Linked DNA regions of Homo sapiens. The gene in region 1 interacts genetically with each later gene. Each region holds a gene or a part of one and is shown in the gene's direction. Other genes may lie near its edges.

The links. Genes that interact genetically often act in the same process or in processes that back each other up.
Region 2: changes in CDK12 (region 1) and LEO1 together harm fitness more than expected from each alone (negative genetic interaction), as found in Homo sapiens cells (one large-scale study listed by BioGRID).
Region 3: changes in CDK12 (region 1) and ERBB2 together harm fitness more than expected from each alone (negative genetic interaction), as found in Homo sapiens cells (one large-scale study listed by BioGRID).
Region 4: changes in CDK12 (region 1) and GET3 together harm fitness more than expected from each alone (negative genetic interaction), as found in Homo sapiens cells (one large-scale study listed by BioGRID).

The regions. Positions count from the first base shown.
Region 1 is NC_000017.11:39,520,486-39,523,985, forward strand, and holds part of CDK12 (cyclin-dependent kinase 12), read left to right. Parts: intron 1-3,500. UniProt on the Homo sapiens protein: Cyclin-dependent kinase that phosphorylates the C-terminal domain (CTD) of the large subunit of RNA polymerase II (POLR2A), thereby acting as a key regulator of transcription elongation.
Region 2 is NC_000015.10:51,937,525-51,940,778, reverse strand, and holds the end of LEO1 (RNA polymerase-associated protein LEO1), read left to right. Parts: intron 1-2,493; coding exon of another isoform or gene 2,494-2,518; coding exon 2,519-2,623; 3' UTR 2,624-2,754; downstream 2,755-3,254. UniProt on the Homo sapiens protein: Component of the PAF1 complex (PAF1C) which has multiple functions during transcription by RNA polymerase II and is implicated in regulation of development and maintenance of embryonic stem cell pluripotency.
Region 3 is NC_000017.11:39,720,564-39,724,063, forward strand, and holds part of ERBB2 (receptor tyrosine-protein kinase erbB-2 isoform a precursor), read left to right. Parts: intron 1-2,755; coding exon 2,756-2,894; intron 2,895-2,974; coding exon 2,975-3,097; intron 3,098-3,348; coding exon 3,349-3,447; intron 3,448-3,500. UniProt on the Homo sapiens protein: Protein tyrosine kinase that is part of several cell surface receptor complexes, but that apparently needs a coreceptor for ligand binding. Essential component of a neuregulin-receptor complex, although neuregulins do not interact with it alone.
Region 4 is NC_000019.10:12,740,497-12,743,996, forward strand, and holds part of GET3 (ATPase GET3), read left to right. Parts: intron 1-3,500.

The DNA.
Region 1 (3,500 bases):
GTTCAAGCGATTCTCCTGCCTCAGCCTCCCGAGTAGCTGGGACTACAGACACACACCACCACACCCAGCTAATTTTTGTATTTTTAGTAGAGACGGGGTTACACCTTGCTGGCCCAGCTGGTCTCGAACTCCTGACCTCAGGTGACCCACCCTGGCCTCCGAAAGTGCTGGGATTACAGGCGTAAGCCACTGCGTCCAGCGTGTTTTTGTTGTTGTTGTTGTTGTTGTTGTTTTGAGATGGAATCTTGCTCTGCCTCCTCCACCTCCCGGGTTCTAGCGATTCTCCTGCCTTAGCCTTGCAAGTAGCTAGGATTACAGGTGCCTGCCACCACACCCGGCTAATTTTTTTGTATTTTTGTTTCATTTTGTTTTGTTTTTTGAGATGGAGTTTCGCTCTTGTTCCCCAGGCTGGAGTACAATGGCGCAATCTCAGCTCGCCGCAACCTCTGCTTCCCAGGTTCAAGCGATTCACCTGCCTCAGCCTTCCCAAGCTGAAATTACAGGCACGTGCCACCATGCCCAGCTAATTTTGTGTTTTTAGTAGAGACAGAGTTTCTCCATGTTGGTCAGGTTGGTCTCGAACTCCCGACCTCAGGTGATCTGCCCACCTCGGCCTCCCAAAGTGCTGGGATTACAGGCATGAGCCACAGTGCCTGGCCATTTTTTTGTATTTTTAGTAGAGATGGGGTTTCACCATGTTGGCCAGGCTGGTCTTGAACTCCTGCCCATCTTGGCCTCTCAAAGTGCTGGGATCACAGGTGTGAGCCACCGTGCCTGGCCTGTTTGTTTGTTTGTGTGTTTTGAGACGGAGTTTCACTCTTCGCATCCAGGCTGGAGTGCAGTGGTGTGATATTGGCTCACTGCAATCTCCGCCTCCCAGTTTCAAGCAATTCTCCTGCCTCAGCCTCCCAAGTAGCTGGAATTACGCCACCATGCCCGGCTAATTTTTGTATTTTTAGTAGAGACAGGGTTTCATCACGTTGGCCGGGCTGATCTTGAACTCCTGGCCTCAGGTGATCCGCCCGCCTTGGCCTCCCAAGGTGCCGGGATTACAGATGTGAGCTACTGCTCCCAGCCTTTTTTGTTTTTTCCGAGACGGAGTCTCGCTCTGTCGCCCAGGCTGGAGTGCAGTGGCGTGATCTCGGCTCACTGCAACCTCCATCTCCTGGATTCAAGCAGTTCTCCTGTCCCAGCCTACTGAGTAGCTGGGATTATAGGCGCAGGCCACCACGCCCGACTAATTTTTTTGTATTTTTAGTAGAGACAGGGTTTCACCATGTTGGCCAAGGTGGTCTCAAACTCCTGACTTCAGGTGATCTGCCTGCCTCAGCCTCCCAAAGTGTTGGGATTACAGGCATGAGCCACCACTCCCAGCCTTTTTTTTTTTTTTTCCAATTGTAGAAATGGAGTCTCACAATGTTGTCCAGACTGTCTCAAACTCCTGGGCTCAAGTGATTCTCCCGCCTCAGCCTTCCAAAGTCATGGGATTACAGGCAGGAGACACATGCTTGGCCTCCCTCTGGTTTTTGCTCTTAACCATTCCTCCAGCTGTAATCATGCATGTCTCTGGTGACCATGTATATCTCACACTTGCAGAGATAGTCCCAGTTTTTTGGGGTTTTTTTTGTTATTATTTTTTTTGAGACAGAGTTTCACTCTTGTTGCCCAGGCTGGAGTGCAGTGGTGTGATCTCGACTCACCACAAGCGTTTCCTGCCTCAGCCTCCCGAGTAGCTGGGATTACAGGTATGCGCCCCCATGCCTGGCTAATTTTGTATTTTTAGTAGAAACAGAGTTTCACCATATTGGTGAGACTGGTCTTGAAGTCCCGACCTCAGGTAATCTGCCTGCCTCGGCCTCCGAAAGTGCTGGGATTACAGGCGTGAGCCACTGAACCCGGCCAACAGTCCCAGTTTTAAATGGTTTGCATCACTGCCAGTTTTTTTTGTTGTTTTTGTTTTTTTCTGAGACAGGGTCTCTCACTCTGTCACCCAGGCTGGAGTGCAGTGGCACAATCTCAACTCACTGCAACCTCCACCTCCCGGCTTCAAGCGATTCCCGTGCCTCAGCCTCCTGAGTAGCTGGATTACAGGAGCCCGGCACCACAGCTGGCTAATTTTTGTATTTTTAGTAGAGATGAGGTTTCACCATGTTGACCAGACTTGTCTCCAATTCCTGACCTCAGGTGATTCGCCTGCCTCGTCCTCCCAAAGTGCTGTGATTATAGGCGTGAGCTACCGCACCCAGCCAGATTACTGAATTTTGATGTAAGAAATAAGATCTTTCGGTCGAGCGCGGTCGCTCACACCTGTAATCCCAGCACTTTGGGAGGCCGAGGTGGATGGATCACCTGAGGTCAGGAGTTCAAGAGAGCCTGGCCAACATGGTAAAACCCCGTCTCTCCTAAAAATACAAAAAATTAACCAGGTGTGGTGGTGTATGCTTGTAGTCCTGGCTACTCAGGAGGCTGAGGGAGGAGAATCGCCTGAACTCGGGAGGTGGAGGTTGCAGTGAGCCGAGATTGTGCCAGTGCATTCCTGCCTAGACCATAGAGTGATACTCCATCTCAAAAAATTAAAGTAACATAAAAGAAATATGATCTTTTAATATGTCTCTATTTAATTAAAATCTTATGAATGCCTCTGTATTGTATTGGAGCTTCAGAGATTCATATCCCACATTATAGCACATAAAAAGTCTTTTATCTGGCCTGGCACGGTGGCTCATGCCTGTAATCCCAGCACTTTGGGAGGCTGAGGCAGGCAGATCACCTGAGGTCATGAGTTCGAGACCAGTTTGGCCAACATAGTGAAACCCCGTCTCTACTAAAAAATACAAAAATTAGCCAGGCGTAGTGGCGTGTACCTGTAGTCCCAGCTACTCAGGGAGACTAAGGCAGGAGAATCACTTGAACCTGGGAGGCGGAGGTTGCAGTGAACTGAGATTGCACCACTGCACTCTAGCCTGGGCAACAGAGCAAGACTCTGTCTCAAAAGAAAAAGAAAAAAAAAGTATTTTATCTTTGAATTTGTCAGTGACAGTATTATAGCTTTAATGTCAAATTTTGGAGGTCATTTTCTTAAGAAAGACTACATGTCTTAAAAATGGATAGGATGTTAGTTCATGAGTAGGTAGTAATTCTAAATCTGATTGCTCCAAAGAAATGTCCAAATTCATTTATTTTTTTGAGACAGACTCTTGTTCTGTTGCTCAGGCTGGAGTGCAGTGGTGTGATCTCGGCTCACTGCAGCCTCCACCTCCCAGGTTCAAGCAATCCTCCTGCTTCAGCCTCCTTAGTAGCTGGGATTACAGGCACACACCACCACACTTGGCTAATTTTTGTATTTTTAGCAGAGACCAGGTTTCACCATGTTGCCAGGCTAGTCTCGAACTCCTGACCTCATGATCCGCCTGCCTCTACCTCCCAAAGTGCTGGGATTACAGGCATGAGCTGCCGCGCCCAGCCAAATTCATTTATTACACTAGAATGTTGATACATTG
Region 2 (3,254 bases), on another chromosome or scaffold:
ATTATAATTTTTTTTTTTGGTAAAGACAAAATGTCTTACCATGTTGCCCAGGTTGGTCTCACTCAAACTCCTGGCCTCAAGTGATCCTCCCACTTTGGCCTCCCAAAGCCCTGCGTTTACAGGTATGAGCCACTGCACCCATTCCCTTTGCTGTGTTTTTCTGTGCTTATGTGTAGCTGCCAGAGAAGTCAGTCCTTGGCAGGCCTTTTTTTTTTTTTGAGACGGAGTCTCGCTCTGTCGCCCAGGCTGGAGTGTGGTGGTGTGGTCTCAGCTCACTGCAACCTCCATCTCCCGGGTTTAAGCAATTCCCTTGCCTCAGCCTCCCAAGTAGCTGGGATTACAGGTGCCCGCCATCACGCCTGGCTAATTTTTTTGTAGTTTTAGTAGAGATGGGGTTTCACCATGTTGGCTGGGCTGGTCTTGAACTCCTGACCTCGTGATCTGCCCACCTCGGCCTCCCAAAGTGCTGGGATTACAGGCGTGAGCCACCACGCCCAACCTTTTTTTTTTTTTTTTTTTTTTTTGATACGGAGTCTCCCTCTGTCGCCCAGGCTGGAGAGCAGTGGTGTGATTTCTGCCCACTGCAACCTCCACCTCCTGGGTTCAAGTGATTCTCCTGCCTCAGCCTCCTGAGTAGCTGGGATTACAGGCATGCGCCACCACGCCTGGCTAATTTTTTGTATTTTTAGTAGAGACGGGGTTTCACTGTCTTGGTCAGGCTGGTTTCAAACTCCTGACCTCGTGATCTGCCCGCCTTGGCCTCCCAAAGTGCTGGGATTACAGGCGTGAGCCATCGCGCCCGGCCGGTCCTTGGCAGGCTTTCTAAAGCAGAATTTCACAGCTTCTTACTCCAGAGGATGGATTAGGACTGGTGCCAGTGAGACTTCTTTGGGAGAGCCCTGGCCATCTCCTGGCTGCTGCTGTCCAGGGGCCTTTAGGACAGGCTGTACCATCTTTTAGAATTACCATGCTAGTTCTTTTAGTGATTCAAATTTCATCTCATTAAAGGATTTTAGAGCTGAAAAGACAAACACACCAAGGCTCACTTTTGGAAGGTTACCAAAAAATAGTGATTGCATGTAAAACGTTTTAAGATTTTTCCTTTGGAAATTAAAAGACAAGTAGTGTGATTGAATGTGCTCTTTGCCTGTGGCGCTGGGAGTATTTGGGTTTGCTCTAGCCTGCAGAATAGAAAGGAGGGGCTCTTGTCCCTTCTTGGGGGCAGGGTCCATCTTTCAATATTGCTGTTTAGGTATTTCACTGCTGTCAGCTGGGAAGTAAATGGAGGAGGAGGACTTCTCTAAATACCTTACTGTGGATTCATAACTTCCCCCCTTTGAATTCTATGGCCTTTCAGGTCTGTGGGAATGTATTTGGGATAATAAGGCAGGAAACAAGTGTGAGATGCTATCTTGTCTGTCAGAGGGCCAGCCATGAGAACCATCAGAAAAAAGTGGGCATACCAGGTTGCATTCTCCATCTAGCAGCCTGTGGTCACAGCAGCAAGATGTCTGGCTTTCCCTAACTTCAACCTTCAAACCATTTGTTCATCCCATTTAATTTTTAATTTTTATTTATTTATTTATTTTTGAGACGGAGTCTTGCTTGCTCTGTTGCCCAGGCCGGAGTATAGTGGTGCGATCTCAGCTTACTGCAACCTTCGCCTCCTGGGTTCAAGTGATTCTCCTGCCTCAGTCTCTCGAGTAGCTGGGATTACAGGCGTGCGCCACCACACCTGGCTAATTTTTGTATTTTTAGTAGAGATGGAGTTTTGCCATGTTGGCCAGTCTGGTCTCAAACTCCTGACCTCAGGTGATCCACCCCCTTTGGCCTCCCAAAGTGCTGGGATTACAGGCATGAGCCATCATGCCCGGCCCATCCCATTTAGTGTCAGTTTGTTTTAATCAGTATTTGATATTTAGATACTGACATGTTCAAATTCTATCTATCTGTAAAAAATGTTTTTTAGGTAACTTCCTAAATTATTTGTTTCTGTTAGAACGTTTGTACAGAATGATTTTAAACAGAGGAAACTTGTTTATAGATGCCCTTTAATGTCATCAAATATTTTCTTAAAAACCTTTATGATGTTTTTAATGCATTGAAACAAATTGTTCCAAAAAAACCAAATCAACAGTCTTTAAAATACTGAATTTTAGATAATGAAAAGAAGTGAAATGCTGAGGAGGCAGAGAAAAAAAATTTGAGAAATTACCTGATCATGGTAAAAATATCCTGACAGGACCAGTGGTTAGACAGGCAGAACTTCCTCGGGAGAGCCCCGCCCCTTCTGTGGCAAATCCTGTCTCCAGTTTCCTGCACATCCTACTCTGTGTTCAAAGGTTTCCCTGTGAGAGATTAGTTCACAGTTGCTGACACCTCACAATCTCCCTCACAACCTGCAGGAACCGTTACTTTGAGTTGTCAGAGGGTCATTCAGCTCATAGCTACTTTTCATAAACCATCCTAAAAATGTTCTTTATTGACTTGTAGATTTGTAAAAATTGTATCTGTTTAGGAAGGTGAACCTTCCGGAAAGAGAAAAGCAGAAGATGATGATAAAGCAAATAAAAAGCATAAGAAGTATGTGATCAGCGATGAAGAGGAAGAAGATGATGATTGAAGTATGAAATATGAAAACATTTTATATATTTTATTGTACAGTTATAAATATGTAAACATGAGTTATTTTGATTGAAATGAATCGATTTGCTTTTGTGTAATTTTAATTGTAATAAAACAATTTAAAAGCAAGTCTCTATGTTTAAGAAATCTACTTTTCCGGCCAGGCGCGGTGGCTCATGCCTGTAATCCCAGCACTTCGGGAGGCCGAGGCAGGTGGATCACAAGGTCGTGGTGGCGGGTGCCTGTAGTCGCAGCTACTCGGGAGGCTGAGGCGGGGGAATTGGTTGAACCCAGGAGGCAGAGGTTGCAGTTAGCCGAGATCGCGCCACTGCACTCCAGCCTGGCGACAGAGCAAGACTCTGTCTCAAAAAAAAAAAAAAATCTACTTTTCCCAAAGCGAACTGATTTTGTTAATGCTTTAAACAAACAAAGTCTTAGGTCTCAGTGAATTCCTGCTGCTCTCTCAACCCCCTTCCTCTCATTCCCCACAAAGAAGCCTTCTGGGCCAGGCTGAGATTCTCTCACAATTCTGGAGACTTGGAGTCCAAAATCAAGGTGTGGGACGGCCATGCTGCCTCTGAAGATTCTTGACAGGGATCCTTCCTTGCCTCTCAGTTTCTGGTAGTTCC
Region 3 (3,500 bases), 200 kb from region 1:
TGTGCTAAGCAAGGGGGTATGGAGAGGAGAGGGTGACAAGAATATTGGATCAACACCCGGGAGCTCCATCTATCCCAGGATGCACTATCTTTTTTTTATTTTTTTGAGACGGAGTCTCACTCTGCCTGCAGGCTGGAGTGCAGTGGCTCCATCTCGGTTCACTGCAACCTCTGCCTCCTGGGTTCAAGCGCTTCTTGTGCCTCAGCCTCCCAAGTAGCTGGGATTACAGGCACATGCCACCACACCCAGCTAATTTTTGTATTTTTAGTAGAGACGGGGTTTCACCATGTTGGCCAGGATGGTCTCGATCTCTTGACCTCAAGATCCGCCCACCTTGGCCTCCCAAAGTGCTGGGATTACAGACATGAGCCACCGTGCCCAGCCAGATACGCTATCTTTTTATTGAGTGATTGAGACAGGGTCTTGCTCTCTTGTCCAGTCTTGAATGTGGTGGTGTAATCACAGGCTCACTGCAGCCTTGACCTCCTGGGCTCAAGTTACCCTTCTGCAGTAGCTGGGACTATAGGAGCGTGCCACCACGCCTGGGTAATTTAAAAAATTTTTTTTGTATAGACAGGGTCTCACTATGTTGCCCGAGCTGGTCTCAAACTCGTGGGCTCAAGTGATCCTCCAGTTTTGGCCTCCCAAAATGTTGGGATCACAGGAGTGAGCCACCACTCCTGGCGATGAGCCAAGTCTTTTTTTTTTTTTTTTTTTTTTGATATGGAGTCTTGCTCTGTTGCCCAGGCTGGAGTGCAATGACACGATCTTGGCTCACTGCAACCTCTGCCTCCCAGGTTCAAGCAGTTCAAGCAATCCTCCTGTCTCAGCCCCCCAGTAGCTGGGATTACAGGCATGCGCTACCACGTCCGGCTAATTTTTGTATTTTTAGTAGAGATGAGGTTTTGCCATGTTGGCCAGGCTGGTCTTGAACTGCTGACCTCAGGTGATCCACCTGCCTCGGCCTCCCAAAGTGCTGGGATTACAGGTGTGAGCCATCGTGCCTGGCGGAGCCGAGTCTTAAAAGATGACCCTGTGGAGAAATGGTGGTCCAGGCTGAAGGGACAGCCTATGCAAACACTGGGAGGTGTGGAAAATCATGACCTGTGGGTGGAAATTTTGGCTAGAACATCAAAATCATCAGGTGTACATTCCTGTACCCATGCAGCAGTCAGAATCTCTGGGGGTGGGGCCCCAAAATTGTATGCATACAGACTGTGTGCTGATTTGTGATATTACTTAGGATTTTTTGACTTTACAATGGTGGAAAAGCAATAATATACATTCAGTATAAACCGTACTTTGAATACCCATACAGCCATTCTGTTTTTCACTTTTATTTTTATTTATTTATTTATTTATTATTTATTTTGAGATGTCATTTTGCTGTTGTTACCCAGGCTGGAGTGCAATGGCGCAGTCTTGGCTCACCGCAACCTCCACCTCTCAGGTTCAAACGATTCTCCTGCTTCAGCCTCCAGAGTGGCTGGGATTACAGGCAGGCACCACCACACCCGGCTAATTTTGTATTTTTAGTAGAGACGGGGTTTCTCCATGTTAGTCAGGCTGGTCTCGAACTCGAGAGCTCAGGTGATCTGCCCATCTCAGCCTCAAGCCACCATGCCCAGCCCTACTTTCAGTATTCAATAAATTACATAGCCAGGCACCGTGGCTCACACCTGTAATCCCAGCACTTTAGGAGGCCAAGGTGGGAGGATCCTTTGAGGCCAGAAGCTCGAGACCAGCCTGGGCAACATAGTGAGACCCCATTTCTACAAAAAATAAAAAAACTAGCTGAGTGTGGTGGCGTGTGTCTGTAGTCCCAGCTACTTGGGCAGCTGAGGTGGAAAGACTGCTTGAGCCCAGAGGTCAGGGCTGCAGTGGGCCATGATCTCACCACTGCACTCAGCCTGGGCAACACAGCAAGGCCCTGTCTCAAAAATAAATAAATAAATAACACAAACTTATTTAACAGTTTACTATAAAATAGGCTTTGTGTCAGATGATTCTGCCCAACTGTAAGCTGCTGGCAGTGTAAATGTTCTGAGCACGTGTAAGCCAGGCTAGGTGTCTTAAATGCATTTTCAGTTTCAACTTAGAATTGGTTTATCAGGACGTAGCCCCTTGGTGTTGAGGGGCATGTGTATTAACAGTCTCCTTAGTGACTTTTTTTTTTTTGAGATGGAGTCTTGCACTGGCCGTAGTGCAGTGGCACAATCTCAGCTCACTGCAACCTCTTGTCTCCCGGGTTCAAGCGATTCTCCTGCCTCAGTCTCCCAAGTAGCTGGGATTACAGGCACCCACACCACGCCCAGCTAATTTTTGTGTGTGTGTATTTTTAGTAGAGACGGGGGTTTCACTATGTTGGCCAGGCTGGTCTCGAACTCCTGACCTTGTGATCTGCCCACCTCAGACTCTCAAAGTGCTAGGATTCCAGGCATGAGCCACCGCGCCCAGAGTCCTTAGTGATTTTTACACCATGAATTGTTGAAGCCCTAAGCCAGAGCCAAGGGCAAGAGTATAGAGAATCTGGAGATGCGGAGAGGGTTCTGATTGCCTACAAGGAGTTTGGACTTTATTGTGGAGGCAGCGGGGAGCCAAGGCAGGTTTTAGAGTAGGAGAGGGTCCAAGCCTGTGGGTCACCCTTCCGACTTCCCTTTCCGAATGCCAAACACCTTCATGTCCCCCGTGGGCCCCCTTTGTCCCTCCCACCCCAAACTAGCCCTCAATCCCTGACCCTGGCTTCCGCCCCCAGCCCTCTGACGTCCATCATCTCTGCGGTGGTTGGCATTCTGCTGGTCGTGGTCTTGGGGGTGGTCTTTGGGATCCTCATCAAGCGACGGCAGCAGAAGATCCGGAAGTACACGATGCGGAGACTGCTGCAGGAAACGGAGGTGAGGCGGGGTGAAGTCCTCCCAGCCCGCGTGGGGTCTGCACCGGCCCCCGGCACTGACCCACCACCCCCTCACCCCAGCTGGTGGAGCCGCTGACACCTAGCGGAGCGATGCCCAACCAGGCGCAGATGCGGATCCTGAAAGAGACGGAGCTGAGGAAGGTGAAGGTGCTTGGATCTGGCGCTTTTGGCACAGTCTACAAGGTCAGGGCCAGGTCCTGGGGTGGGCGGCCCCAGAGGATGGGGGCGGTGCCTGGAGGGGTGTGGTCGGCAGTTCTGATGGGAGGGGCAAGAGCTGGAGGCAGTGTTTGGGGGAGGGCAGTTACAGCGGAGAAGGGAGCGGGGCCAAGCCCTAGGGTGGTGAAGGATGTTTGGAGGACAAGTAATGATCTCCTGGAAGGCAGGTAGGATCCAGCCCACGCTCTTCTCACTCATATCCTCCTCTTTCTGCCCAGGGCATCTGGATCCCTGATGGGGAGAATGTGAAAATTCCAGTGGCCATCAAAGTGTTGAGGGAAAACACATCCCCCAAAGCCAACAAAGAAATCTTAGACGTAAGCCCCTCCACCCTCTCCTGCTAGGAGGACAGGAAGGACCCCATGGCTGC
Region 4 (3,500 bases), on another chromosome or scaffold:
AAACCTCATCTCTACTAAAAATACAAAAAAATTAGCCAGGTATGGTGGCGGGCACCTGTAGTCCCAGCTACTCCGGAGGCTGAGGCAGGAGAATGGCGTGAACGCGGGAAGTGGACCTTGCAGTGAGCCGAGATCGCGCCACTGCTTTACAGCCTGAACAACGGAGCGAGACTCAACAAAAAATAATAAATAAAAATAAAATAAAATAAAGAGATGCTGCAGAGTGAGGATGCTGGCAGAGGACAGTCCTCAGGTGGGATGAGCTCCATCCAGCATACAGACCCAGAACTTGGGCGCTGCCAGGGTCAGGGACTGGGAGGGAAACAGGAGGAATTGGGGCACTTCCCGGGCAGAGATGAGGGTGTTGGCAGCCAATGGCTTCTCTTTCTCACCAAGGAACAGGCAAGGGTCTCAGCAGTGAATGGGATAGAAGTTTGAGGAGGGAGAAAATACCACATAAACACTTATTAAGGTAGCAGGGGGAACCAGAATTGTCTGGATCATCAAGTGCCCATTGGAGATTTGTGTTCAGAAGAGGGGAGCAAGGGCGGGCGTGGTGGCTCATGCCTGTAATCCCAGCACTTCGGGAGGCTGAGGCAGGTGGATCAGAAGGTCAGGAGTTAAAGACCAGCCTAGCCAAGATGGTGGAACTCCATCTCTACTAAAAATACAAAAATTAGCTGGGCATGGTGGCTCACGCCTGTAATCCCAGCACTCTGGGAGGCCGAGGTGGGCGGATCACAAAGTCAGGAGATTGAGACCAGCCTGGCTAACAGGGTGAAACCCCATCTCTACTAAAAATACAAAAAGTTAGCCGGGCGTGATGGCGGGTGCCTTTAATCCCAGTTATTCGGGAGGCTGAGGCAGGAGAATGGCGTGAACGCGGGAGGTGGAGCTTACAGTGAGCCTAGATCGCGCCACTGCACTCCAGCGTGGGTGACAGAGCAAGACTCCATCTCAAAAAAAAAAATACAAAAATAAGCCAGGCACGGTGGCTCACGCCTGTAATCCCAGCACTTTGGGAGGCTGAGGCGGGCAGATCACCTGAGGTCGGGAGTTCGAGACCAGCCTGACCAATATGGTGAAACCCCGTCTCTACTAAAAATACAAAAATTAGCCTTGCGTGGTGGCCGGCACCTGTAGTCCCAGTTACACGGGAGGCTGAGGCAGGAGAATTGCTTGAACCTGGGAGACGGAGGTTGCAGTGAGCCGAGATCATGCCACTGCACTCCAGCCTGGGATACAGAGCGACACTCCATCTCAAAAAAAAAAAATTAGTTGGGCCTGGTGGTGGGCGCCTGTAATCCCAGATACTCGGGAGGCTGAGGCAAAGAATTGCTTGAACCTGGGAGGCGGAGGTCACAGTGAGTCGAGATTGTGCCACTGTACTCCAACCTGGATGACAGAGCGAGACTCCGTCTCCAAAAGGGTGAGGAGCAAGATGGGAATACTCTTCAGGAGTGTTCGGCCCTCAAGTGCAGTGATACTAAAGAGCTAGAAAGCCATACCTATCATTTCAGTGCTTGCAGAGACTGAGACAAGAGGATCACGTGAGGTCAGGAGTTCAAGACCAGCCTGGGCAACAAAGGGAGACCCTTTCTCTACAAAAAACAAACAAAATTAGCTGGGCATGGTGGTGTGTGCCTATAGTCCCAGTAAGTTGGTAGGTTGAGGCAGGAGGATCATTTGAGCCTAAGAGTTTGAGGCTGCAATGAGCTATGTATGAGATGGTATCTTTTTTTTTTTTTTTTTTGAGACTGAGTTTCACTCTGTCACCCAGGCTGGAGTGCAGTGGTGTGATCTCAGCTCACTGCAACCTCTACCTCCTGAGTTTAAGCGATTCTCCTGCCTCAGCCTCCCAAGTAGCTGTGATTACAGGCGCCCGCCACCACATCCGGCTAATTTTTGTTTTGGGGGGGTTTTTTTTGTTTGTTTTGAGACGGAGTCTTATTCTGTCGCCCAGGATGGAGTGCAGTGGCGCAATCTCGGTTCACTGCAACCTCTTCCTCCCGATTTCAAGTGATTCTCCTGCCTCAGCCTCCCGAGTAGCTGGGACTCCAGGTGCATGCCACCATGCCCGGCTAATTTTTAGTATTTTTAGTAGAGACGGGGTTTCACCATGTTAACCAGGATGGTCTCGATCTCCTGACCTCGTGATCCACCCGCCTTGGCCTCCCAAAGTGCTGGGATTACAGGCGTGAGCCACCGCGCCTGGCCTGTATTTTTTTTTAGTAGAGACGGGGTTTCAACATGTTGGCCAGGCTGTTTTCAATCTCCTGACCTCAAATGATCTGCCTGGCTTGGCTTCCTAATACACTGGGATTACAAGTGTGAGCTACCGCGCCCGGCCAAGACGCTATCTCTAAAAGAAAGAAAAAAAAAGCTGGAAGTAACCAGAGTGGGGGATTTTGCCAACAGCAAGGGGAAAGGGAGTGTTTGCAGAGGGAACCTGTGGAGGCTGGGCTGGATAAGGGTGCCAGCCAAGAGGAACACTGACAGTTTACAGGGGCCAGGTGAGGGGATGAAGTAGTCCAAAGAAGCTTAAAATATATGAAGCATAAGAAGAGGGTGCAGTGATGAGTGGGCAAGCTCCCCAACAGGGAATGACCCCTAAGGCCAGCGAGTTGGGTACTTCCCCATGGGACCCATGAAGTTACCAAGAAGAGGTGACAGAGGAGGAAGATAAAGAGGGAGGCATTGGCCGGGCATGGTGGCTCATACCTGTAATCCCAGCATTTTGGGAGGCTGAGGTGGGTGGATCACCTGAGGTTGGGAGTTGAAAACCAGCCTGACCAACATAGAGAAGCCCCGTCTCTACTAAAAATACAAAATTAGCTGGGGTGGTGGCGCATGCCTGTAATCCCAGCTACTCAGGAAGCTGAGGCAGGAGAATCACTTGAACCCTGGAGGCGGAGGTTGCAGTGAGCCAAGATCACGCCATTGTCCAGCCTAGACAACAAGAGTGAAACTCCATCTCAGAAAAAAAAAAAATTACAAAAATTAGCCAGGCATGGCCAGGCGTGATGGCTCGTGCCTGTAATCCCAGCACTTTGGGAGGCCGAGGTGGGTGGATCACGAGGTCAGGAGATCGCCACCATCCTGGCTAACACAGTGAAACCCCGTCTCTACTAAAAATACAAAAAATTAGCCAGGTGTGGTGGCGGGCGCCTGTAGTCCCAGCTACTCACTGCACTCCAGCCTGGGTGACAGAGCGAGACTCCATCTCTTTTTTTTTTTTTTTTTTTTTTTTGAGATGGAGTCTCGCTCTGTCGCCCAGGCTGGAGTGCAGTGGCGTGATCTCAGCTCACTGCAGGCTCCGCCCCCTGGGGTTCATGCCATTCTCCTGCCTCAGCCTCCCAAGTAGCTGGGACTACAGGCACCCGCCACCTCGCCCGGCTAATTTTTTGTATTTTTAGTAGAGACGGGGTTTCACCGTGTTAGCCAGGATGGTCTCGATCTCCTAACCTCAGGTGATCTGCCTGCCTCGGCCTCCCAAAGTG